Linked DNA regions of Homo sapiens. The protein of the gene in region 1 purifies or fractionates together with the protein of each later gene. This does not show direct contact. Each region holds a gene or a part of one and is shown in the gene's direction. Other genes may lie near its edges.

Region 1 (7,028 bases):
GGCTGGTCTCGAACTCCTGGCCTCAAGTGATCCTCCCACCTCAGCTGCCTAAAGTGCTAGGATTGTAGACTTGAGTCACTGTGCCAGCTAGATTTTAAATATCTATCTTACTTATCTTAAAATTATTTGGTAATTGTCTCGTGAAGTATGAATCTGTTCCCTCTCAGATTTCCAAATTGTTAGCTAACTATCTCAATATTGTTTATTAAGTAATTTAAAAAATCTTATTGGTTTTGTCCCCATTATCATGTATTCAATTCCTTTATAAAATGTGCTATACTTTTGTCCTTTCCACTCTGTTTTTGTTTTTCCTTTTATGCTCATATTGATTATAAATTAATCATTTCTATTTTAATAATTCATGGGCTGATCTTCATTTTTATTTTTAATTCATAGGCTGGTCTGATTTCTTTTTTATTTTTAAAAATTACTGTTTAGTAGTTTTTTATTCATATAGTACACAAATATTCTGAGCTACGTTATAAAAATTAAAGGATGAATAGAACTTGTCCTTTGTTTTCAAGGAGTACATAGTCTTAGAGAGTATGAGCAATTATTATTCAGGAATTCAAAGAAGACTTTTGAAAGCTTAAGTTGGAAGGAAGGAATAAGCCTAATAAAGGAAAGCTTAAGTTGAGTTTTGATTTATAGGCACAACTTCACCAGGGCAATGACTAGATCAGCAAAAATGAATATATGCAATAAAAATTGTGGACAGGTACACACACAGGGATGGCTGGAGCATAGGGTGAGGACATGAGGAGTAGCTGAGTATGAGGCTGGAGAGACAAACTGGAGCACCACTCTTTTCTAATTCCAGCTTAATTTTGTAATAATGTAATAAAATTCAATACCAACCCCATTAAACTCTTGATCAGGGTAATATTAAACATATTCAGTATACCATAACAATTATTGAATTGAATCTAATTCTTAAATAATAATGTCATTTGTCACAGAATGGGAGAGGTAAAAATAATAACTGTCAATAAAATTAGGACTATAGTAAATTCAAGCTGTGTGTTCCTTTTCAAAGTGAAAACACAGAAAGGGAAAACTACTCCCTTCAAGACTAATCAGTTGGCTTTAAGACAGGAAACACAAAATCAATCATCTTGACTTTATTGAAGCAGTGTGTAATTCTCTGCTAGTATGTAGTCCACAGAGACAGGGATCAGTTCCATCAGCCAGCAGGGCCCTGTGAAATGGGAGCCATTCTGTACAGGAATAAGGAGGAATGGAAGGAAGCAAGGAAAGCAATAGAGGTATCCTAACTGCTCTAGAAGGTTGATGGTGAAATGACAGAATGAGAATGTAGCACTGGGAACGGTATGAGCATATTAAGAAGAGTTTTTTAGTTCTAACCTGCTTGTTGTAATCATTTCACAATGTATGTGCATATCAAAACACCACATTACATACCTTAAATATACACGATTTTTATTTGTAAAATATACCTTAGTAGCGTTGAAGGGGAAAGTTCTAACCGTATTTAGAAGACAGAGGAAATAATTCAGTTGAGATGGAGAGGTTGATTTTTTTTTTGAAGAGGAGAGATCCACTTTGGAACATGAGTTCTTTAGGATATGTGAAACAGCTTGTCTCAAGATACAGAGGGGAAGATGGAGCACTTCTTAGAATGGCAGCAAGGATGTGATTAGAAGATGTAAAGAAAAAGGTGGTGAGAGATGGATGCAGAAAGCCAGACAGCTTACACTGATGCTTTGATCTTCTAAATAAGTATGTCCCACCTGTGTCAGATTACCCAGGAGTACTAGGTAAAAATTCAGCCCCTGGATCACTCTCATCAGAACCCAGGAAGCTGTGATATTAGTGAACTCTCTGGGTTATTCTAACTAAAGTGTGAGAACCAATGGCTCAAATGGAGTAGCAGGTTATCTACACAGTGTGTCTATATGATTGGGAAAGCATTAGTGCCACCCATATTAGAAGATATGGGTGGGCGATGGAAGAAAGGAATTGCTAAGCAGAGCCCATTTGGAAGTTGGGAAGCAGGAATTTGTATTGGAGAGGCTGGCCCAGCTCCAGATATGGTTGAATGTGCTTCCATGGCTTCTTCTAAGTTAAAGTGAATCTACCTAAAGACCCTGTTATTACTTCTGTATCAGGACCCAGGGAAAAATTGATAAAGCAGGCTACTGGATCAAGAAAGCAGGCTACTGGATCAAGGACATGAAGACAACTTGAGAGATTTCCCTTCCTTCTGGCCTTGAGAAACATACCTTTCTGGGCAGGCAGAGTCAATAATGCTGATTGCTACATACAATCCTGTGGATTTGTGTATTCAGAACTTTAATTTCACATAATTATGATGAGCCTGCCAACATGTCAGGCCAGACTTTCCTCTGCTAGTTGTGGCTCAGTTTATTCTTTGATGCTGCTGCTCCACCTGCATATAACCCAAGATGGGCAGCTCCCATGGTGAAAGGAATTAAAAGTTGCAAGGCCCTAATCTAGGTCATTGCTTTTCTCTCTCTCTACCCTTCTCTCTCCCTCTCTTTCTCTCTCTCTCTTTTTTTTAACTTGAGTGTATTAGCAGCCTCTTACCTGGTCTCCAGGCTACCAGCCTCTTCCTTCCAAGGTAATCTTCTATTCTATTAGAGTACCTTTTTTTTACACAGACTGACAGTTGCCATAAGTGCTGTAAGCAGTCACTGCTGTGAAGATTTCCTGTCACCACAGAGTGATGTTCTAACAAACAAAACAGATATAAGACGTTTTTCGAAGAATGCCTTGTCTTCAGCCACTGCTGCCGCCATTAGCACCTCCTACATTCTAGGGACAGGGAATCCTTGTCATTGCCTCAGTATATTGCGTACTCTTGCCTGTAACCAAAGTATCCCTTCGAGTTTAGTTGCTGTTCTTTCTGTTGTTTCCCTATAAGAAGTGTATTTAAATGTTATTCCCACTCTGTAGCTTTCTTGGACCACACTCCCTCTTTCCAGGCAGAATTATTTTTTTCATCTGTATTCCATAGTACTTTATACAAGTATCAACATTGTATTTAGAACATTCTATTGTACTTATTTGTATCTTTGTTTCTACAACTGCACTAGAATTTCATGTAATCCAAACTGAAAGAACATAGGAAAGTAGAGTTCTTTGGAGCAAGCAATATGGGCAACTCCCTGCATCATTTTGTAATAGTAACAAGCTTTCCTTTTTCCATGTAATATTATAGTTGTAGCATTGATGAATCTGAATATTTATAGAATCATAGAATTTCAGTGGGGAGAGGTATCTTAGAAGTGATTCCTTTGATTTGCAGATGAAGAAACCAGTCTTGTGGTTATGTTAGACCACCTAAGTACCTTTCATCAAAATCCCAGCCAACAACCTTCAGGAATTTATGAGAATTAAACCGTTTTCCATTTCAGGCAAAAACGTTCTGGGAGAGAACAAATGTATAATGCATTTTAGTTTAGAGGGAGCCCCATTAACAAATGTTAACTGCGTTTTAAGAAGTTGGGGTCAGGGAAAAAGTCAGGCTATTTGATGAGAGATAATTGATAAGTTCAAGGAGGATTTTAAATACAAATAAAGTGTTTTTCATGTGTTTCATTGAGATGATTTGAGGTATCAGGGCCACCAGAAGACAACAGAGTGGGTTTTGGTGAGTTTCTTTTTCTCTAGGTTTAATTGAACAGTTTTTTTTTTCTTCAATAGGTTTCAGAACCTTCTGTGGTCCAGAAAGACATTTGTGGACAACATGAAAATTTATAACCACAGTTACATCTACATGCCTGCCTTTTCTATGAAGACAGGAACAGAGCCATCTTTGAGGGTTTATTATACACTGTCAGATGTTGGTGCCAATCAAACAGTGCTGTTTGCCAACCCCAACTTTCTGCGTAGCATTGGAAAGTTCTGGAAAAGTAGAGGAATCCATGCCAAGCGCCTGTCCACAGGACTTTTTCTGGTGAGCGCAGCTCTGGGTCTCTGTGAAGAGGTGGCCATCTATGGCTTCTGGCCCTTCTCTGTGAATATGCATGAGCAGCCCATCAGCCACCACTACTATGACAACGTCTTACCCTTTTCTGGCTTCCATGCCATGCCCGAGGAATTTCTCCAACTCTGGTATCTTCATAAAATCGGTGCACTGAGAATGCAGCTGGACCCATGTGAAGATACCTCACTCCAGCCCACTTCCTAGGAACAATGGAAGAAGAAAGGACTGAACCAGGGTATTTTTGTTAGGTTTTCTATGTGACTCCAAGAGGGAATGGTCAAGTTGTTTCATGAGTTTGCATGGGCCCTTGGAAAAACAGGAAAGGAGCAATGAAGATCCAAGCAAAACTTTACTTTCAGCGTTGGCTTGGAGGACAAATAAGAAATGAAACATCCTATGAAATACTTTATAGCACATGGCAGATTTGCAACTAGTAAAATGCTGGTGAAATGCTGTTGGTAAAGCACATGGTTCAAATCTAGAAGATGCAGTTCAAAAACAAGACAGACTCGAGTTGTTAGGGCTGAGGAACCAATCAAGGTAGAACAAAGAAAATGTTGGGGTAAAAGTGTTGCTGATTGTCAACACAAACTGGCTTAATAATATTAATAAGAACCTGTCTTATTAAGACTGGCTTTAGAACCGTAGGTTTTTTTAAAAAATTATTATTTATTTTTGCCCTCTTTGGGGAAGTGGGTGGGTAGATTTAAAAAATCCCTTCCTGAGTAATAAAGATACAAAATGTTACTGCTGATAATTGTGATTTGTTGAGCCACGTCTATATTAACTATAGCTCCCCTCTATTTTTAAAATTTTACATAAGAATTGCTTCTTCCTCTTTTGTCAAGTCCACAGAGACAATGTGAAGCATTATTGAATTTAGACTGTGTTGCTTCATAGTCTGGATAACAGGAGCCACTTTCCTTCCTCAGAATTTAGGACATAAACCCAATTTTAGGTCTGCATTATGTAAGCCTGTTTGCATTGTCATTTTTATTTTAGTGCAAAAGACTACCAATATGAGTGAATTATTTGTTTGTAAATTGGCATAATTGTCTTCATAATTTAATGTTCAGAAATGCAGTAAAGCACGTTGATGAAAAGCTTAGTCTCTGTGGAAGACAGACCAGAAGACAAATCCCTTTTCTATCTACTGTGGCATATTCACTGCAAGGTAAAGGACATGTATGCATACATGCAAGAATGAATTGAGCGAAACTTTGAATATGTTTCCTCTTTTGAGCTATTGTTATTTAGTAGTTACCTAAAAAAGAATACATTTTTACTAGTATACCATTAAAAATGTAAAAGGCTTAACATGTATGCATACATGTAGACACACATACACACACACAAAGTTAAACAAAGCTCATTACTGTGCAACTATGAAAGCTGAACTCATATGACCTGGTATGGCAAAAATTTGTAACCAGTGTTGGAGAATCACAAATGTGTTATGCACTATCCATTACATGTTGATATAAGACAACCGAGCTCACTGGTTGCCGCACATAATACCCATAGCAGCACAAGATGCAAGTCTTACCCCCAAATGCTTACCCGGAATGAGCAGAATTGTCTTACTCATCCTGATTTTACCCAAAATCTCATGAATGGGCTTGCTGTTGAGCGTGGTCACACAAGGTATAGTTTGTACAAGTAAAGAAATGTGAATTAGTAGCTATTTATTTCCTTAGTAGCAGGTAGGACTACTTAGCTTGTTACAACAGCTTTGATACACAGTAAGAAAACTCTACTGACAGATTACAAGCAGCCAAATGTGTTTACATTTCAGAGAAGGGTAAGGGAAGCCTCTCGTTGTCTTCATACTTTGGAATGTCTTAAGCTAAAATGTGACACTAGAGTTCAATTTCTTTTTTATTTTAAATGTCACTAAATTGTAGGTAAACTGTACCAAAAAGTTCTAGTTTAATTTTAACAGTAAAAACTCAGCATACCATGTTACCACGTAAACAATAATGGCTGGTATTTTCTGTGGGTTAATTTAACATGACATAAACATAGGAAAGCCCTTGGCAAAATTCTACATCATTGAAGTAGACCATTTCTAAATGCAATTAAATAGTGAGGTTATTATAAAAATTAGAATTTAAAATATGACTTGTTGATAGTGCAGATTATAATGTTACTTAGAAAGTTAAGAATTCGAGAGTAATGATGCTATTGGAGAACTGGTTTGCTATACGGCAGCAAAAACATAATGAGAATGTACCATGAAGAAATTGTGTTAAATATTCACTTTGAGTGAAACTTTAAATATGTTTCCTCTTTTGAGCTACTGTTATTTAGCAGTTACCTAAAAAAGAATACATTTTTACTAGTCTACCATTAAAAATATAAAAGGCTTAACAAAAACGCATATAAAAGTTAATAAAATGTTACTCAGATTAGTACTTTAATTGTTAAAATGTAATTAATGAGCTCCATAGAGCCCATACATCACAGTTCCATTGAAAATATCATCTGGACTAGAATCTCTTAAACCCAGGAAGTGGAGGTTGCAGTGAGCCAAGATGGTGCCACTGCACTCCAGCCTGGGTGACAGGGCAAGACCCTGTCTCAAAAAAAAAAAAAAGAAAAGAAAAAGAAAGAAAATATTATGTGGAAATTTTTCATCTTTTTATGATGCCTGGGATAGATTTATGCAGTAGATTTATATATAATGTTTAGTTTACAAACTTGTGAAACTATTTCATGTGGGTTCTGAAAGGCAAAACAGAAATGGCCAGTGCTGGTGATGTTTGATTAGACCAGCTCTTCTCAGCTGGGGTGATTCATTATCCCTCTCTGGTGACATTTGGCAATGTCTGGAGACCAGAGACATTTTTTATTTTCATGACTCAAGGGTGCTAATAGCATGTACTTAGTAGAGGTTAGGGATCCTGCTAAAGATCTTACAATGCACAAGTCAGCCTCTCACAGCAAAATAATTATCCAGGCTGAGATGTCAGTAGTATCAAGGTTGACATCTCAGACCTGGATTAGACCTGGATTAGACCAAAATGAAATTTTGATTGTTCCACCTTGTCTTCACTTA
Region 2 (7,028 bases), on another chromosome or scaffold:
AGGCTGGTCTTGAACTCCTGAGCTCAAGCTGTCTGCTTGGCTTGGCCTCCCAAAGTGCTGAGATTATAGGTGTGAGCCACCACTCCCACCCCAGTATCTGTCTTTTAATTGCTGTTTAGACCAGGGACCAACAGACTTTTTAAATAAAGGACCAAATGGTACATGGTTACAGGTCATGCTTGTATGTCATGCAGACATTCAACTATGCTGTAACATGAAAGCTGCTGTACAGTATGCAAATGAACCAGTATGTCTGTATTCCAAGAACACTTTATAAAAATAGGCATGGGCCAGATATGGCTCCAGGACTCTAGTTTCCTAACCTTGGCTTAGTGTAATATGATCACTGCTGTCATTGAATTAAAATCTGTTATCCTTCTGGTTGTTTTGTATTCTATCTGTTCTTTGTTTTTCCATCTTTTTCTGCCTTCCTTTGAATTAATATGTTTTGTGATTCCACTTTATTTCCACTATTGGTTTATTATTTGTACCTCTTAAGTTTTACTTGTTACCTTAGGTTTACAATCTGCATCTTTAATTAACATGTCTGCATTCAAATAATATTATATTACTTCACATGTAGTTTAAGAGCCTTAGAACAGTGTACTCCCAATTCTTGCCTTCCATTCTTTGTGCTGTTATCATATAATTTTATGTTATTTTCTCTTTAAGCCCCACTAATGTTTATACTTTAAATGATTCTGTAACCACCCTCACTGTTAAGATTTTTCTAGGTTTGTGACAGTAAGTTACAAGATTCATAAATTTGCACTGTTTTACAGGTGGAGAATTAGGAATATAGAGACAATAAGAAAAAAGCGTTAGCCTGACAAAGTCAGAGTGCTAGAAGAGAGCTTTCAATAGCTACAGATAACATTTCCTCTCATTCTTACCACTCAGTGTTTTTCTTTAGTCATTACCTTAATTATAACTCTTACTTTATAAGAAAAAAAACTAAAAAGAAAAAAACACTTTTATTTTAAAATTTACATTTTTCTTCATGCACTATATAATAAACACGGGAGTCAAATATTCTTTTTTTTTTCTGTCTGACAGACTGAAGATTGTCATCCAGTTTTTACATTCTTGATTCTGGGGTGTGTATTTCAGCTTTGAGTGTTTCAAGCAACAGATTTGTTGATAATTTATGATTCTTTATAATTTCTAGGTGCATACATAAAATCAGTCATGTTTTAGTATGCATTTCAAAGACATAAAGCTTTATTTTTTTCTTAAGAAATACGGAGTGTAATATGTTTACTATAATTAGCTGATTTTCTTTCAAGAAAGTTTGTGGGGCTTTTTTTTTTTTTATAGTATTTGTGTGGAAGTAATCGAAAAGACAACATATTTATTGATCCTGGATACCAAACATTTGAGCAAGAATTGAATAAAATACTGCGAAGCTGGCAACCAAGCATACTTCCAGATGGTAATGCTATTTTCACTAAAGGTGTTGCTCTCTTGATATTAGGATTGTTATTTTTACAGAGTATGTTTGAAAATATTATAATTAAGTCACTTAAATTAGATAACATTTTCTGAACACTTACTCGAGCTCATCTGCCTTTCATCTCTTGTTGAATTAGAAACAAATGTGGTCAATAACTAGTGTTTATGAAGAACTTTGTAAGAAATGTAATCTACTTTCTCTGGAGTACGAGACTGGATGTTCATGTCTTAAGCCTTCCAGTGGAGCTTCTGATGTAAATTTCTCTTAAACCACTGTTTTCAGTCCGTGAAGAAAATGTGTATGTATGTGGAGTCATCAATTTTTTTCAGGAATTTAAATTCCTGAATTTTAATTTTAAAAGGATTTACACTGTTTTCTGACCACTGTTTGCTTGTCCTACTGAAGAACAGAAGCAAACATCCAGTCCCTTATTCCATAGATAATAGTTCCATAGTAGCCTCTGTATTGTTAAAGAGCTGCATAGGTAATTCTAGAATTATTCTAGTTGATCTAATATGAAAGGAGAATTGGTATAGATTTGTCCTTAAATTAACTGTGTCTGCTTCTAGATGGTTAAATGAAAACTTTTATTTATTATAATTCTTTTAAAATAGTTCTCTCTATTTAAGGGTCAATATTCTCTCGAGTTGAAGAAGACTATCTCTGGAGGATAAAACAACTAGGATCACACTCTCCAGTAGCTCTTCTGAATACACTGTTCTACTTTAACACTAAGTATTTTGGCCTGAAAACAGTGGAACAACACTTAAGACTTTCCTTTGGCACTGTGTTTAGGCATTGGAAAAAAAATCCTTTAACGATGGAAAACAAAGCGTGTCTTCGATACCAAGTGTCTTCCTTGTGTGGAACAGATAATGAAGGTAGTGTAACAGATTTCTATTTTTATTTTTATTTTTAAATTTTTTTTGAGACAGAGTTTCACTCTTGTTGCCCAGGCTGGAGTGCAGTGGTGCAGTCTCGGCTCACCGCAACCTCTACCTCCTGGGTTCAAGCAATTCTCCTCCCTCAGCCTCCTGAGTGGCTGGGATTACAGGCAGGCGCCACCATGCCTGGCTAACTTTGTATTTTTAGTAGAGACAGGGTTTCTCCATGTTGGTGAGGCTGGTCTCGAACTCCCGACCTCAGGTGATCTGCCCACCTCAGCCTCCCAAAGTGCTGGGATTACAGGCGTGAGCCACCACGCATGGCCCAGATTTCTATTTTGGGATTGTCTATGGTAGGGATATCCAAACCTTGCCTTACTAAAGACCACCTGGGTCACTTGTTAAGAACCTAAGGACTGTCAGTTTTATAAAATAAGACAACCTATGTCTTAAGATGTCTCAGTTCCTTTTGTTTGAAAAATTGTACATTACCAGAAGCCATAACTTAAAACTCCAAGGGGCACCTGGTCCTATTCTTTGGTATAACAGACACTAGGAGTGATGTTTATATCTTTCTTCAAGATTAGTTTAGGAGGTTTATTTCACTTTTATTTTTTAAGATAAAATTACTACTGGAAAAAGAAAACATGAAGATGATGAGCCAGTATTTGAACAAATTGAAAACACAGCCAATCCTTCCAGATGTCCTGTGAAAATGTTTGAATGCTACTTGTCTAAAAGGTGAGTGTTAATGATACTTAACTTTTAAAAATGTTGGTAGAAGTTGGCTGGTTTAAATTTAACATTACCAAGAAGTGACTTTTTTAGATGGATTCTTTCTCAGATTTCTTCTCTCTCAGTTATACCCAAGTTCATTCAGTTATAATCTTTTATTTTGAAATACCCAGTTTATACATCATACTTAGAGTTTAAGCATGTGTTAAGAAATCTCTCTCTACTAATGAAATTTCTACTGCTGTCATTTTCTTTTGGAGATGGGGTCTTGCTCTCTCACCGAGGCTGGAGTACAGTGGCACGTGATCATAGCTCATTGCAACCTCAAACTCCTGGGCTTAAGCCATCCTCCCACCCTCTGCCTCCTGAGTTGCTGGGACTGCAGGCATGTGCCTCCATAGCTGGCTAATTTTTGTATTTTTTGTAGAGACAGGATCTCACTGTGTTGCCCAGGCTGGTCTTGAACTCCTGACCTCAAGCCATCCTCGTGCCTCAGCCTCCCAAAGTGCTGGAATTACAGGCATGAGCCATTGCGCCTGTCATTGTCTTTTAAATTACAGCAATTCCAATGACAGCAAAGCAAGGGACACAAACTTTTTCTTAAACGGTCAGATGGTAAATATTTTAGGCTTTTGGGCCTATGGAATCACTATTGTAACTAATCGGTTCTCTTGTGACTAGAAAGCAGCCATATACTATATATAAATTCATGGCATGTGGCTGTGTTATAATAAAACTTCACATAAGCAGGTGGCTGGCTGTAGTTTGCCAATGCCCGGTGTAAAGGTATGCTCAAAGGTAGTATAGATAGGTGGAAATGTAAGTGAAGTATTTACATTTAAGAGAAAACAGTCAAGCAGGTATGAAAAATGGAATCATGTTCTGGAATTTTTTTTCCCCTCAATCTCAGACCAACAGGCATTTTAAAAAGTTTAAGCCAATAAAACGTTTAGAGACCATAGATTATTTTATGCTTGCCTGTTGTTTTAAGTAAGCACTCTCTAATTTTCAGAAGGTCAGCATGAATTCAAAATGTACTTCCCTGTTTAAACAAATTTATAAATCACAGGTCCCCAGGATGGCCCTCAAGGACTTGTAAAAACAATAGTATCATGTATAGGATGATATTAGTACAAGTTGAATGCGCCTTATCCAAAATGCTTCTGACCAGAAGTGTTTTAGATTTCAGATTTTTTCGGATTTTGGAATATTTGCATATACATTATAAGATGTCTTAGGGCTGGGACCCAACTCTAAACATGAAATTCATTTATATTTCATATACACCTTATACATGTAGCCTGAAGATAATTTTATTTATGCATAGCCTGAAGGTGATTTTATTTTCCCCTTGGGGTTGCTGAATAACCTGTGTGTTATGTGCCTGTGTTTTGGGCGCGAACTCCTCACATGAGGTCAGGTGTGGAACTTTCCACTTTTGGTGTCATTTTGGCAAAGAGTTTCAGATTTTGGATTTTTGAATTAGGGATGCTCAGCCTGTATTTCTCACCATGGTTTAGGGTGGTCCTATTTGGCTGCAGTAGTGTCAGGGTCTTCAGTTGGTAGTAACTATTTGTTAGTAGGAAATTCCTATCTCACTATTACCTTGTTGGTATTTTAAAAATTGAGTTTCTATTATGTAGTGCTGTAAGAATTTTTTAATTTTATGTGCTGCCATACATATTTCATCAATTCTAAGACATTTTCACATTTCACTATTTCTGAAACTGGGATGCACAGTTTAAATTGTTGCATCTTGAAATCATAATTGGCAGTGTTTCACTTGCTTAATGGTAGCATTAAAATAATGAGTGGTGTGTCTATTGATAGTGTCTTGGATTTAGTGAAGTAGAATTAAAATTGTGGGAAATAATCTCTATCTCAGAAAATAACTTTGAGAATATTTTAATGACAGAATAATGGAGACAGTGGGGCATAGGGGGTCTGGTCATATAACGTGATTAATGGGGTCTGAATTATTCTTGAAAAAAGAAAAAGTTGTGGAAATTTTGTGAAATTGACTTTTTCTCTTTTTCCTCCCGCCTCCAAAGTCCACAGAATCTTAATCAGAGGATGGATGTTTTTTATTTGCAACCAGAATGCTCTAGTTCTACAGATAGCCCTGTCTGGTATACGTCTACTTCACTGGACCGAAACACCTTGGAAAATATGCTTGTACGGGTTCTTCTAGTAAAAGATATTTATGATAAAGACAATTATGAACTGGATGAAGACACAGACTAAAAAGGAACGTTGCAGAAGCAATCGGGATAAAACAGCATTAGATAGTCATGCTGCTAGATCTTTATTATGGAAAACATTTCAAGTTTACTCCTTCTGTTTTGAGTTTTGTAGCAGTGTACCCACGCTGGGTATTACCATGTAAATAATCTGTGAGTGAAAGTTGCCATTATTCTATGTAGTGGTTTTAGGATACTTAACAAATACATTCAAATTCTTTTTTTATTATTATTTATTTGATTAGGTATGTTTGTAACTTTTTACATTACAGAATATGAATGAGAATGTGCCATGTATAATTTTTTTCTTGTAGTAAGAAACATCCATATTGCACAACTCTACTGTTGCAAAGCTTCCTTGGAAGGGGGCTCTTTTACTGGGTTCTTAACCAGATGGTTGTGTATGGGTAGCACTACTAAAAGTTTAGAACTTGCAGTGTCTTTCGGAATTTTTAAAATAAACTGTAAACTAATAGGCTGGGGTTTTTGTTTTGTTTTGGGGTTTTGTTTTGTTTGGTTTTACATTTTAGTTACTGAAGCCTTACAAGGTTATGTAGAGAGATACCATCTTCTGTACCAAAAATAGACAAGAGAATGCTGTCAATATTGGTGTACTGTAATGTGAATCTATGCTGGTGAAAACAATTTTTTGTTCCCCTTATTAAAACCTTAGTGTCCTTTTCTCATTTGTGGCTTTCTGCATCACCCAATCAATAAAAAACAAATATATATATGTATATATATGTATGTATGTGTGTGTGTATATATATATATATATATATATATATAAATGATTGTAAGTTGAAAACAAGATCATCAAGACATTTCCTTTGTAAAAATGTCTGGTGAAAGTATAAAATTCTGTTTTCTTCTATGCCAGCCATAAGTATCTGAAATCCTCTTCATTTATAGAGGTTTGATTTTTATTTCTTTTTTTCCCTCTTAAGGATACAGATCATGCTGCAATGTTAGCTGTGTAGTACTCTAAAACTTAGCAATTTTATCAGAATTCTTGTGCCTGTTTACATTGGATAAAATTGTTTTTAGAAATTCCACTCCTGAAATAGTTACAGAAAGTCAAGCTATGTTAAATAAGATAGGATCACATTTTATAATGAAGATTACCAGTGTAGTAATTCTGATATTGCAAATGATTGAGGAACAAACAAAGAAACTAATAGAGAAAGTCAGTCTCAGAGGAAATCCCATTTAATGTTAGATTGTTTGGCTTTTGAAATTACTTCTTATAGAAGATTGCATTAAAAAAAAAAACAACTTTGTGCTTCTGCATAGCAATTTATCCATTCAGACCTTTTCTTTTAGAATAAGGAAACTTAAAATCTACTTTCTAAAGACTGAACAAAGTGCTAGCTGCAAATTATCTTGAAATCATTTGGCTCTTTTCTAGCATGTGTGTAATCATGTTTTCTTCTGATTCCTGAATGACCATGGTAGCATTAGTGTTTAGAAATTGTTCAGGGGAAAATTGAGCTATTTTCCATAGTGGCTAGCAATTGCTACACATCCTTAGATACTCCTCTCTCCCATAGGATAAATGTTACAGCACACAAAAGAAATTTTCTCAATTCTGATTTGGAAAATTTCACAGGTGTCATTATTGTATATCTAAGCAATAATTATCTGAATGTTTTGGCATAAAAAATTATAATGTTCTAACTTGTTTTATAAGTTGAATGACTTTTCAGTCCCTTGATT
Region 3 (7,028 bases), on another chromosome or scaffold:
GAAAGATGGGAGGTGGTAGTCAGGGAGTAGGATGTTTGGAATTGATAGTTTGGAGGGTTTGCAGTTACTGGTAATAGAGGCATATGAGTGACTGAGATAGGAAGGTGGATAATATTTTGGGAGAAGAAGAACTCAAAGAATGGAGTGAGAGGTCAGGGTATTGTGGGGATCACCTGTGTGGATATTGAAATCGCTAGGTATTAATATTGTTGGAAAGTGTGATGGTGAGCCAGAAGCTAAAATCTTTTGAGAAATGAAAACAAGTGATACAAAGATGAATAGATTACTATAAAAAAGAGAGTTGCGGGTGGTAGAGTCTAATGACTTTAGACTTAGAGCTGGGTATATTTGAGGAGGAGACAAGGAGAATGGTCTGTAATTAGCAATGAAGAGCAAGGACGATAGCTGTCTGGTGCCTGGTCCAGTGATAGGAAGAATCAGTTATCACTTTATATAGCTGCAGGGGAGAGAGAAATCAGGAGATCTAGAAGGTGAAGGGAATGTTCAGCAAAGTTGAGGATTTAGGAGATTTCATTGTTAATGAATGTTGAGCTCCGGAGGGCACAGTAGAAGGGTTTTAGGATTCGGGGAGGAGTGTTAGATGGGGACAGAATAGGGAATATGCATAACCATATGGAAATTGGAGTATGGGAAATAGGGGTGACTGAGGTGTCTGGGACTATGGTAAAGAAAGAAAGGGACTAATAAAGTTGATTAGTCATGGTTGTCTGAGGACACATAGTGCAGTGGTTGTGTTGGGGAATGCCGAGCAGGATGTCAAGGAGACTCTCCATTCCTGCAGGTGGAGGTTGGAGCTTGAGGGGAAGATCAGTCTTATTCAGTGCCTTTGGGGCTTTTTTTTTTTTTTTTTTTTTAACCACTGCTGATGGAGATTGAAGGAATAGGAATCTGCCTATCACCCTGTGTACCTGGCATCACTTGTTAACTACTAGGCTTTGTTTTAGGGAGGCCAGCTATATGAGGAGGGTTTTACTCTGGTGTGTTGAATCTTTGCATCTACACTAAAAGTGGCCAGTCTACTTTTTACCAGACAGTGCTTGATAAAAGTATAATCTGCTGCTGATACCTCTCAAATCTGTTAACTGCAGCCCAAATTTTTTTATAGATCTCCAGACCAATTGTATCTTACTGTTCACTGAAAAGTCCTCTTGGGTATCTCACAGATACTGTCTTAAACTGAAATGTCTGAAATCAAATGTAACATCTTTTTCTCATTATATCCATTGTTTATTTCGGTATAGGTAGTCACAAAAAGTGTACTGCCTAGTTGTCTAAGCAAATACTTGAGCATCATTCTGGAGTCTGTTCTCTTCCTCTTTTCCATATCCAGTTACCATTAAATCTTACAGATTTTTTTTCTGCATCACTTGGACTGTGCAGATAAATCTTACAGATTTTTATCTCCTAACTAGCCCTTGCATCTGCTTTTGTTATTTCCAGTGCCTCTCAGTTCAGATCATCTACAATCTGGCCCAGGTTATTACAGCAGCCTCCATTCTTGTTCTCCCACCCACCCCTTCTCCCCAAACACCCATTCTGGCCATTCTTGAGTTATATTCAGATCTTCACATATAGCAAACTGTTTTGGCCTATGCAGATGCTGCAGATTTAGTAGTGAGTTATAGTTGTGGATTTAGTATTCAGTGCATGCAACTTCTCTAATCAATGTCACTTCTTAAAAAAAGTCACAGAATATAGAGAGAATAATCCAAGTGGAAACTTTTGTTCATGAGGTTACTAATAAATAATGAGGTCACAAGGTCTTTGCTTTCCTCCAAAAAATATAATTTCCTTTTAAAGGACAATGTACTTTTTTTTTTTTTTTAAGGGAAAAGAATTTTTTTCCTATGCAAATACTTTAATTTTTGCTTAAATTATATCAGTTGCATTAATATAGTCATTGGGTTGTCCTTTGATTTGCTGCTGTTGTTACGTAACCAATGATTAATCTTTTTTTGTGATGATGGTGTGTAGTATGCTGATCACAGATTCCTTAAGCATCTTATGAAATCTGCTTATTGATGATTTGTTCTTTCGTGTTTTTTTTCCTCCTAGGTGAGAACTTACGTTTCTTTTTGTTTGTGTTTTATTGAAGGTACGGCTTGTAGATGCAGGCTTTGTTTGGACTGAGCCTCATTCTAAGAGACTTAAAGTTAAACTGACTATTCAGAAAGAGGTAAGCAGTACATAATTTTCTCAGCATGGTTAAAGTGCAGGTAGTGAAAATGAAGACCCAGTGATAAGTTATTTTATGGCTTGAACAGCTTAAAAGAAAAAGAGTACACTCAATTTTAGCTGTTTGTTTTCTTTTGAGCATCTGTACAAATAATTAGATCACTAGTAAGAGTAGTCATTGCTTCTGATTAGCAGACTTACTTTTCCAGAGTTATTTTTATTAGGAAAGGATTGAAGTAAAAACATGGTCTAAGGTACTGATCCTCAAACTTGGCTGATCATTGTAATGACTCATCATAACTGAAGCAAAAATTCTCTGTATGTGAGGCCGGGAATCTATAAGTAGGTTGAGTATCCCTTATCTGAAATGCTTGGGACAAGAAGTGTTTCAGATTTTGGATTTTTTGGATTTTGGAATTTTGCATTATACTTAACTGGTTGAACATCCCTAATTCAAATACAAAATGTTCCAGTGAACATTTTCTTTGAGTGTCATTTAGAAACTCAAGAAGTTTCAGATTTTGAAGCTGAAATTTCAGATTCTGGGTTTTTGGATTTGGAATGTTCAATCTGTATTTAAAAAGCTTCCCATGTGATTTCTGATCAGTTATGTTTGGGAATCATTAAATTAAGGAATTTTTTTTTTGAGAAGTTTTCCTTATTTTTTTCTTCTAAGGATGATTTTTCTATGTAAACATGTATAGGCTGGGCATGGTGGCTCACACCTGTGATCCCAGCACTTTGGGAGGCCAAGGTAGGCAGATCACTTGAGCCCTGGAGTTCGAGACCCCATCTCTACTAAAAATACAAAAGTTAGCTGGACGTGGTGGTGTGTGCTACTTGGGAGGCTGAGGTGGAGAATCACTTGAGCCCAGGAGGCAGAAGTTGCAGTGAACCAAGATCGTGCCACTGTACTCCAGGCTGGGCAACAGGCAGAGTGAGACCCTGTCTCAAAAAAAATTATATATATATATATATATGTAAAATATACACAGAATATTCTCACAACCACTTCAGCTAAAGGAAAATTTGAAATGCTAATCTAATAAATCTTAGGAATTAAATCTGTATACCGTTCTTGAAATAGTATAACTTGTTTTTATGACTTTAAATTTGAGGACATTTGATTGATGTCCTCAAAGCATTAATGGAAAAAGTTTTAAATTAAATATTAAAGGTTCTTCTTTAAAGAAAATATTTGTTATTAAACAAAACCAAAAGAATGAAGGAGTGTAATTGTTTTATCAGGTGATGAATGGTGCTATCCTTCAACAAGTGTTTGTGGTGGATTATGTTGTTCAGTCCCAAATGTGTGGAGATTGCCATAGAGTAGAAGCTAAGGATTTCTGGAAGGCTGTGATTCAAGTGAGGCAAAAGGTAATGAGAGAAGATGATGAGTGAGTCCTACATCTTATATTTCGTCTTTGTTAATTATAACTTTTCCTTCTTTCTAAATCCAGGGATAGTCTGGGTCCCTGAAGCATTCACCTTTGGAAATAGATCATTATTACATTTTAGATAATCTTTAAAGATTGTTATTGTTTGAAAAATCAGTATGCTCTATCTGTAGATAGTATGTGTGTCCTATACCTATAAATGGCTTTTTTGTGGGGCATTTATTGATCAAATAATTTATATTTTAGACTTTGCATAAAAAAACTTTCTACTATCTGGAACAGTTAATTCTGAAATATGGAATGCATCAGAATACACTTCGTATCAAAGAGATTCATGGTGAGTTAAAACTCAAAAGCATTTGAAATTATGTCAGATTTTTATTTCAACATACCTAAGTAATCTTATATTTACTGATAATATCTGGATTAGTACTGTCCAAAAGAACTTTCTGTTAGGAAAAAAAAAAAAAACAACTTAATTCTTTATCTGCACTGTCCAGTATGGTATAGTCACTAGCCACATTTGGCTGTTGAGTACTTGAAATGTGGCTAGAGCAACTGAGAAACTGAATTTTTAATTTTCTGCTAATGTCAAACATAATTATCTTTTTATGTTTCATACCTAAGTATGATATTTCTTGAGGTTTCTGTTTGATACATATGCATACATACTTCTGTCCAATCTTGCTCTCAGTTAAGTGAGTGACATTGAAAAGAGTTAGAAAGAAAGCTTGCCTTCTTTCTACCTAGCATTTAATTAACCTCTAGAAGTTTTTTAAGAACTTGCCCATTAAGCCATCCAATTTGATATCTCCTAAGGGACGTCTTTTCAGTTTCTTTTATGATATTCACCTCTCAGGTATTCTACCCCTTGAGTCAATTTTAATACCATTTTCCAAGAAAAACCATTTCATCTAGCTTTTTAGATTCTTGGTATAAAATTGAACAAATAAAATAAATCTCATCCGTAACTGTAGTTATGTCCTCTCTATTGTTCCTAATGTTTATCTTTTCTCTTTCTACTCACCTCACCTTAGACTAGCTACTTTTATCTATTATGTTAGTTTTTTCAAAAAACTATTTTTAGTTTTAAACAATCTTTTTATTAATTTTGTTTTTAACACTAATTCCCTCAACTCTATTTAGTTCTGTTTTGTTTTAATTAATTGAAAGCTTAGTTTATTTTTAATTTCTAATACATATATTTAAGATCATAAATTTTCTTCTGAGTACTATAATGGGTCTGTAGCTGGTACTTATAGCTACCTTTTTCCACTGCCCATTGCATATTTTATTTGCCCTCAGCAAGCACCTCAGCTGTTTCATTCTTTTGGGTACATACTTAGGTGTGGAATTACCAAGTCATATGGTAAATTTATGTTTATATATAAAAAACTACCAAACTGCTTCAAAGTGGCTGTACCATTTTACATTCCTGCCGCCAATATTTCTCTGTATCCTCCTCAACACTTGTTCTTATATTTTTGTTTATAGCCATTCTAGAGGGTGGTATGAAGTGGTATCTCATTGTGGTTTTAATTTCCATTTTGCTAATGACTAACGATGTTGAGCATATTCTGGATACAAGTCTCTTACTGCATATATGGTTTGCACATATTTTCTCCTAGTGTGTAGGAGAAAATTCACACTCTATATTCTTAATGGTGTCCTTTGAATTGCAAAAGTTTTAAATTTTGTTGAAGTCCAGTTTATCAAGTTTTTTCTTTTAATTGTGGTTTTGGGGTTATGCTTAAAAACTGTTTGTCTAATCAAGGTCACAAAGATTTTCTCCTATAGTTTCTTTCAAGTGTTTTATAGTTTTAGGTCTTATATATTTAGGTCTAACTCTTGAGTTAATTTTTGTGCAGAGTGTGAGATAAGTGTCTAAATTCATATTTTTCTATGTGGATATTCTTCATCCCAGTGAAAACTCTGTCCTTTCCTCAGTGAATGCCTTGGGTCTTCTGTCAAAGATCTATTGACTGTAAATGTAATGGTTTATTTCTAGAATCTGAAGTCTGCTCCCATTGATCTATATATCTATCCTTATATTAGTACCATGCTATCTTGCATACTTACTAAAGTTAGTGAGTTTTGACATTAAATGTGTAATGTTCATTTTCTTCAAAATTGTTTTGGCTATTCTGGGTAATTTTAGTATTGGCTGTTTTGGTAATTATATTTAGTTATTTGCAAGAATATCTTTAATATTTCTCAGCTAGGTAGGTTTGCTTTTGGCTATTCCTTTCTTGATTTCTAGTGCTACTGTTTTATGATGAGATAATGTTGTCTTTAGTAATTTCTACTGTTTAGGATTTATTGAAATTCTTTTTCTTTTTAAAATCTTAATACATGATTTTTAAATGAATGTTTTATGAATGTTTGATAAAATATGTATTCTTTCTTAGAACTGTGTTCTATAATCTCAGTTAACTCGACCTTGATAGTTGGTTATTCAAGTTCTGTGAATTGTTACTATTTTTTGTCAATATGATTATTTTGGTTTTGAGAGAGTCCTATTCTAGTCCTTCACAATGATTGTATGTGTTAATATTTGTTAATTTTTTCTTTTCTTTTTCTAGTACTTTTTGTTTTCTATCTCTCAGATAGTTTCCTGTTATCTTCTTGGTAGATTATTCCATTTATTACATAAAATAACTTTCTTTTTTTTTTTTTTTTTTTGACATGAAGTCTTGCTCTGTCACCCAGGCTGGAGTGCAGTGTTGCGATCTGGGCTCACTGCAACCTCCGCCAACTGGATTCAAGCGATTCTCCTGCCTCAGCCTCCCAAGTAGCTGAGATTTGGCACATGCCACCACGTCCGGCTAATTTTTTGTATTTCTAGTAGAGACGGGGTTTCACCAGAATGGTCTTGATCTCCTGACCTCATGATCCACCCAGCTCAGCCTCCCAAAGTGCTGGGATTACAGGCATGAGCCACCGCACCCGGCTGTTCATAAACTTTCTTTGTTCTTTGTTTTTCTGTCCCCCTTGGCCTTGAGTTTTATTTTTTCTAGAATTAGAATTACGAGTTTTATTTTCATTTGCTGATTTATTTTGTCTGTCTTTTTGCCAAAGAAGTCTTAAGTGATATCTCTAATCTGTTGTGACTACAATAGAGTTTTCTAATAATTTGATTTTGTTTAAAACAGATGTAATTTATAATATAGTCATGTTAGTAGAGGAGAATCCTATTTTGCATAATTATTTTCATAGGGCTTTTTTTTTTTTTTTAAGATGGTCTGGATTTTTATTATTCCTCAAAACAACATGCTCAGAAGATGGTCGAATTTCTTCAGTGTACAGTTCCCTGTAGGTATGTTCTGAACCTTGAATGTGACTAAATCTAAGGACTTGGGAATGGATGCGGATCACATATATTCTTCAGGCTCAGACAACTTCTCTTTATTTAAAATCGTAGTAGAAATACTTACA
Region 4 (7,023 bases), on another chromosome or scaffold:
AAAAAATATCATAAAGATTAGAGAAGAAATTTTAAAAATAGAAACAAAAAATACAAAAAGTCAATGGAACAAAGAGCTGGATTTTTTAGAAAAAAATCAAAACTGACAAGCTTTAACTAGACTAAGGAAAAGAAAAACAAAACAAAATGATAGATGAAAAAGGAGACATTACAATGGATAACACAGAAATATGAAGGATTGTAAGAGATTACTAAAAACACCTATATAAAAACAAGTTGGAAAATCTAGGAGAAGTGATAAATTTCTGGACACATAACAAATTCCCAAGATAGAATGATAAACAAAAAACCGGAACAAGATCCATAATGAGTAATGTAATTAAAGCAGTAATAAAAAGTCTTCCATCAAACAAAAACACAAGAATCATGGCTTTATTGCTGAATTCTACCAAACGTTTTTTAAAGAGTTAATACGAATTTTACTCAAAATATTCCCCAAAAAATGAAGAGAAAGGAAGTCTTCGAAACTTGTTCTATGAGGACAGCATGACCCTGGTACATGGTACAAAAACCAGACCAGGAAACAACACAAAAAGAAAACCACAGGCATTTTAAATATCCCTGATGAACACAGATGCAAAAAAATTTTCAGCAAAATACTTGAAAATTGCACTTGACAACACAATAAAAAGATGATCTGCCATGATCAAGTGGGATTCATCCCAGGAATATGAGGATGATTCAATAAAACACAAATAAATGTGCGACATCACATTCAGCGAATCAAGAACAAAAACCATATAATCATTTCAGTAGATGCTGAAAAAAATAAAAATCAACATTCCTTCATGACAAAAACTGGACAACATGAGTACAGAAGGAACATATCTCAGCGCAATAAAGGCCATATATGACAAACCCACAGCTAACATCATAATCAATGGGGAAATGTTTAAACTCTTCCTCTAAGGCCTGGAACAAGTGTGGCTACTTTTACGCCACTTTTATTCATCATAGTACTGGAAGTCCTAAGTGGGGCAATTAGACAAGAGAATGCAATAAAAGGCATCCAAATTGGAAAAAAGGAAGTCAAACTGTTTGTTTGCAGGTGACATGATCATATATATACACAGAGAAAGAGAGAACCCTAAAGATTCCACAAAATCACCTACTAGAAATAATTTAGTCAAGTTGCAAGATACAATATCAACATATAAAAATCAGTAGCACGCCCATGCACCAATAGTGAAATACCTAAGAAAGAAATCAAGAAAGCTATTTCATTACCAAAAAAATTATATCTAGGGATAAACTTAACCAAAAAGACAAAAGATCCCACAATGGAAACTCTAAAACACAGATGAAAGCTATTAAAGCAGACACAAGTAAATGGAAAGATATCCCATGTCCATGCACTAGAAGAATATTGTTAAAATGTCTATATCACCCAATGTGATCTAGAGAGTCAATGCAATCCATGTTAAATTACAAAAGACATTCTTCATAGAAATAGAAAAAAAAAATCCTAAAATTCACATGGAAACGCAAAATACCTCAGATAGACAAAAGAATCTGGAATAAAAAGAAAAGCTGGAGGCATCACACCTGACTTCAAAACATACTACAAATCTGTAGTAAGCATGGTAATACCAAAACAGCATAATACTATCAAAAAAAGGGGCGGGGGAGAAACAGAAACGAAGGAATGACAGACATAGACAAGTGAAACAGAATAGAGAAATCAGAAATAAATTCACCCATTTATGGCGTACTCATTTTTAACAAAGGCACCAAGAACACACATTCGGGAAGGACAATCTCTTCAATAAACTGCTAGGATAACTCAACACCCACATGTACAGGAATACATCTAGGCCGTTATCTTACCATATACAAAAATCTACTCAAAATAAAGATTTAAATGTAGGACCTGAAACTATAAAACTACTAGAGAAGAAAACATAGGATAAATCCTTCATGAAACTGGTTAGGACAAGGAATTTTCAAATAGACATCAAAAGCACAAGCAACAAAAGCAAAGATGTAATTACATTAAACTTGTCAAAAGCACAAGCAACAAAAGCAAAGATGTAATTACATAAAACTTAAAAGCTTCTGCAAAGCACAGGAAGAAATCAGTAGAACGAAGAAACAACCCAGAGAATGGAAGAAAGTATTTGCAAACTATGCATCAGCCAAGGGGCTAATACACAAAATATATAAATAACTACTCAAAAGCAAAAATACAAATAATCTGATTAAAAAAAAATCTACCCCAAATCTTTGTCTCCCACCATTATTTTCCCACCTTCTTTTCCCGACCGCCTTTGGCCTCCTCCCCCTCGCCACCTGTTTTCTTCCTCCATCTACCCCAAAACTTTTTCCCCACCATTTTTCCCCACCGTCATTTCGCAAAGCCTTCTCTGCTCTCTCACTCACCACCCTTTTCCCCATCCACTTACCCACTTTCCCCACTGTTTTTCCCACCGTCTTTTCCCTTTCTCCCTGGCCACCTTCTTTTCCCCCATCCCACTCTCATCACCCTCTTTTGCTCCTTCATCTAAGCAAAAACATTTTCTCCCGTCTTTTCCCAAACCCTTCTCCTCACTCCTGCTGCTCACCACTTTTTCGCCCTTCATCTACCCGAAAACTGTTTTCCTCATCGTCTTTTCCCCCGCTCCTCCTTGCCACCCTCTTTCCCTTCTCTACCCAAAAACATTTCACCATAGTCTTTTCGCAAAGCCTTCTCCCCACTCCTGCTCACCTCCCCTTTTCCCCCTCCATCCACCCCCCAGAATATTCCCTACTGTCTTTTCACAGTCTTCCCCCCTTCCCACTCGTCCTCTTCTTTGCCCTATCCTGCTTGCCACTCTCTTTTTTGCCTTCCATCTACCCCAAACTATTTTCCCATTTTTTTCCCAACTCTCTTTCCCTGCTCCCTCTCGTCACCCTCTTTCCTCCTCCTCGTTACCCTCTTTCCCCCCACCATCTACCCAAACACTTTTTACCCACTGTCTTTTCTTTCTCCACCGTCTTTCTTTCCTGCCCACTATCTTTTTGCAAAACCTTGTCTTCCTCCCGCTGGCTACCCTTTTCCCTTCCCCCACCTGTTACCCTCTTTTCCCCCTCTATCTACCCAAAACCTTTTCTCCCCACTGTCTTTTCACAAAACCTTCTCTCCCTACTGCTCAACGCTGTTTCTCCCCCCCACCACCCTCTCTTTCCTCCTCCCTTGCCACCCTCTTTTCCTCCTCCATCTACCCATAAACATTTTACCCACCATCTTTCTGCAAAACCTTCCCTCCCTCCCGCTCCCCACCCCGTTTTTCTCCCTCCATCTACCCAAAAACTTTTTTTCCCACTATCTTTTCCCCACCGCCTTTTTGCAACGCGCTCTCCTGCTCACTATCCTCTTTTCCCTTTGGCACTAACCACCCTCTTTACCCCCTCCATCTATCCCAAAACTCTTTTCCTCCTCTTACCGCTTCCGCCGCACTGCCGTCTCGGTCGCGGTTACCACCAGTCGCAGCGAGGCGAGCCACGGTGTAGCGGCTCCAGCCTCCAGCGTACGGCTGGTGATTACCCATTCCTGGTCCTCTAAGCCGGGCACTGAGCAGCTCCACAGGAAAATACGGGAACGTGGAAGAGCCTGACTTCCCTTCAGCAGCAGTCATATACCGAGATTATATACAGGAGGATTCCTGACTGCATGTTCTGATTGGATGAGAAAAACCCTCCAGGGTTACTTGGATTGGACTTTATTATCATGTTCTGATTGGATGAGAGCCAGTCTTAAGACAACCAATCACAGCATGAAAATAAAGTCCAATCAGAGTAGGCCTAGAGGTTTTTCTCTCATCCAATCAGAACATGTAGTCTGGGAACCACATGTGCGTAACCTCAGTAGGTAAAGCATGCGGAGGTGGCGTCAGGTCATTTCAGGCTCTTAAGTGTGGGCGTTTGGTATCCGGCATGGCTGCTACCTGTTTCTGGCTGGAGCCTCGGACACTGGCTCACTGCAGTTGGTGGTGTCGACAGTGGTAGGAGGGCAACCAGTAGCGGGAGCTTCTCCTGCCAGGCAGGAAGACGAGTAGAAGGGAGCGGCATGCTGGAGGCTGGAGCCTGAGCCCCTGGGGCTCGCCTTGCTGTGTTTGGTGGTGACGTGGGACACTGCAGCTCGGCCAGAGTGGTAGAAATGTCCTGGTGTAGGTGAGTTATCCGGGGATGTACTGCCCGCCTGTGGGGGCAGGGGTTGGGTGTCCTATTGGGGCTCACTACCCGAGGCTGCACTGCCTGTGTCAGGGGGCTGGTTGGGGGCACTCTCCGAGGTTGCATTGCTGGCGGTGGAGGGGGGCGGTTTTGGCTGGCTGTCCGGGGCTACACTGCCCGTGGTGGCGGGGGTGATGGGGGGGAGGCAGGTTGTGTGCACTAACGTGTACTGCCGGTGGCGGGGGAGGGGTTAGGGGCACTATTTTCTGCTGCACTGCCCGGGGCAGGGAGTGGTTTTGGTGGTTATTTGGAGCTACAATGCTGGCAGCGGGGGGTGGTTTAGGAGTGTTGTCGGGTGCTGCACTGCCCTTACTCAGGGTGCGCTATCAGGAGCTGCGCTACCTGTGGTGGGGTGGGGGCGGCGATTTTGAGGCATTGTCTTGTGCAGCAACACCTGTGGCTGGGTCAGGTTGTGGGCACTATCGGGTGCTACACTGCCTGTGGAGGGGGTGGTTGGGGGGGGTATTGGGGTTACACTGCCTGCAACTGGCACAGGGTGTGGTGGGTGTGCTGTCCGGGGGCTACACTGCCGGCGGCAGGGGTCAGGTTAGGGTTGCTATGGGGGCTATACTGCCAGTGGTGTTGGTCGGCTGCAGAGGTGGTGGGGACAGCAACAGCCATGGTCTCCTTGCTCCTTCGGGTGACTCTTCTCTTTTCCAGACTCCAGAGTTCCTCCTGGTGCAATCTTGAGCAGGGCAGGGCCCCCACACCCACTGCGGTTCTCCGGCCTGCACCTCCCGCCCACACCCCATGCTCTGTGTTGGGGAGACCACCTGGGACTACCGGGTGGGGATTAGTGGGCATCGCGGGGGACTGTGGGAACAGGGCACTGTGGGTGGAGGTGTCAGGAATGGGAACCAGCAGTTGAGTGGGGAGGGCTGGCTGGGTCTGAGTTTCTCCTACTCCTGCTCCCCAAGGAGTGCAGCCCTGGTGGGCCCAGCAATTTCTGGCCAGTTGCACCTGGATGGGGGTGGTTTCAGCATAGGCACTCACACCCGCCCCAGTTCCTGGCCACCTTTTGCCAGAAAGAGAGGCTGGACTTCGGTGGGTGGGTCTGAGTGCCTTAGCTGAAGCTGGTCCCTGCCACCCAGTGGCCAGCATGACAAGGTGAGGCTCTAACGTTACCACTCCCTGCATCCCATTCTAGGCTTTTCTGGCTTTGCCCGTCTAGCTGCTCCAAGCCAGGCTGGAGGAGGAGGAGAAGGAATCACCTGTGGTACGCTGGAGCCTGCATGTGGCGTGACTCTGCAGCTCGCCTCGTGTGACTGATGGCAGCCACGGAGACTGCAGCTCGACAGGAGTGGTAGGAGGGTGCCCGCGGGGGCAAGGTGGTAGGAACCTTGTAGGGTGGGCTGCTGCATTGATGGCGACAGCAATTGTATTGGCATTGGTGCTAGTGGTGGTAGTGGCAGAAAGTCTGGGGACTGGGAAGGGGGAGTAGGAGCACTGCAGGGCCCAGTCCGACCTGGGGTGGGGACGAACCTGCTGGTGCTGTACCATGGGCCTCGGTGGCAGTGGTGGAGGTGCACTTAGGGAAAGGAGTCCTCCCCCTTCTCTTGCAATCTCTGGAGGGTGGCCTCCTTCTGAGCCAGGCATGAGTGGCAGCATTGTCTCATTCTTAACAAAATTTAGGGGGTGACTGTGTGTGTGTGTGTGTGGCTTTTTTTTTTTTTTTTTTTTTTTTTTTGAGACAGAGTCTCGCTCTTTTGCCCAGGCTGGAGTGCCGTGGTGTGATCTCGGCTCACTGCAAGCTCTGCTTCCTGGGTTCACACCATCCTCCTGCCTCAGCCTCCCTAGTAGCTGGGACTACAGGCGCCTGCCACCACGCCCAGCCAATTTTATTTTTGTATTTTTAGTAGAGATGGGGTTTCACAGTGTTAGCCAGGATGGTCTAGATCACCTGACCTCATGATCCACCCACCTTGGCCTCCCAAAGTGCTAGGATTATAGGCGTGAGCCACCACTCCCGGCCATTTTTTCCTTCTTTTTTGTTGTGATGGTCTTGGACTTTTTCAAATTTTGTGAATTGGGGAGGGGATAAAAGGTGTCATAATAGGCCTTCTAATTCCTGCACCTGTTCTTTTTGCTTATTCTAGTCTGTGTATTCTTCTCATCTTCTTGTTCCTCTTCATTTTCTTTTGCTGCTGCTTCTATTTCATGTTTCTATTCTTGTTTCTCCTCCTCTTTTTGTTTTCTTTATGCCAAGCAATGGCCTTAACAAACAACAAGCCAAAATTGTCACTGTGTTGTATTTTTAAAATAACTGGTCCTTTACTATGTTTTAGGGATGAGGAAAAAAATCAGTTGTATAATTAGTTACTTGAATAGCTATGCTTTCACGATTGTGTTAAACCACTTATGCCTAGTGTTCCATTATTGGAATGGTAAGCATGAGGGAGTTAATTACATCCTACTGCTCAAGGTCATTAGAAGGTTTGATTTTTCACTCGTGCAAAAATTCAAAAAATTGCAGCCTCTGGCATAAATGGGCTAATGCGTTGTAAGTAGTTATTCAGAGAATCAAAAAATGAAGCATCACATAAAAATATTGGTGGCAAACAGCCATTTCATCTCTCTCACATATTTGGAGCTATGCAGGAGTCACGGGGTAAGTTCTAATTTATGAGATTATTAAGTGAACTGTATTGCCTTCATTTTCTCTGCCACCATTTCCTTTGTTTTCTTTCTTTTTTTTTTTTTTTTTTTTTGAGATGGAGTTTTGCTCTTGTTGCCCAGGCTGGAGTGCAATGGGGCGATCTCGGCTCACTGCAACCTCCGCTTCCTGGGTTCAAGC

The links.
Region 2: the proteins of ST8SIA1 (region 1) and ZMYM2 purify together in Homo sapiens (affinity purification with mass spectrometry; 2 studies listed by BioGRID and IntAct, with this or other methods). This does not show direct contact.
Region 3: the proteins of ST8SIA1 (region 1) and NMD3 purify together in Homo sapiens (affinity purification with mass spectrometry; 3 studies listed by BioGRID and IntAct, with this or other methods). This does not show direct contact.
Region 4: the proteins of ST8SIA1 (region 1) and POTEF purify together in Homo sapiens (affinity purification with mass spectrometry; 3 studies listed by BioGRID and IntAct, with this or other methods). This does not show direct contact.

What each region holds. Positions count from the first base shown.
Region 1 is NC_000012.12:22,198,698-22,205,725, reverse strand, and holds part of ST8SIA1 (alpha-N-acetylneuraminide alpha-2,8-sialyltransferase), read left to right. Parts: intron 1-3,687; coding exon 3,688-4,174; 3' UTR 4,175-7,028. UniProt on the Homo sapiens protein: Catalyzes the addition of sialic acid in alpha 2,8-linkage to the sialic acid moiety of the ganglioside GM3 to form ganglioside GD3; gangliosides are a subfamily of complex glycosphingolipds that contain one or more residues of sialic acid.
Region 2 is NC_000013.11:20,080,699-20,087,726, forward strand, and holds part of ZMYM2 (zinc finger MYM-type protein 2), read left to right. Parts: intron 1-1,317; coding exon 1,318-1,432; exon of another isoform or gene 1,433-1,438; intron 1,439-2,082; coding exon 2,083-2,334; intron 2,335-2,957; coding exon 2,958-3,078; intron 3,079-5,123; coding exon 5,124-5,316; 3' UTR 5,317-7,028. UniProt on the Homo sapiens protein: Involved in the negative regulation of transcription.
Region 3 is NC_000003.12:161,231,283-161,238,310, forward strand, and holds part of NMD3 (60S ribosomal export protein NMD3), read left to right. Parts: intron 1-2,116; coding exon 2,117-2,197; intron 2,198-3,444; coding exon 3,445-3,573; intron 3,574-3,839; coding exon 3,840-3,930; intron 3,931-6,830; coding exon 6,831-6,909; intron 6,910-7,028. UniProt on the Homo sapiens protein: Acts as an adapter for the XPO1/CRM1-mediated export of the 60S ribosomal subunit.
Region 4 is NC_000002.12:130,126,218-130,133,240, reverse strand, and holds the start of POTEF (POTE ankyrin domain family member F), read left to right. Parts: upstream 1-4,018; 5' UTR 4,019-4,169; intron 4,170-5,376; 5' UTR 5,377-5,532; intron 5,533-7,023.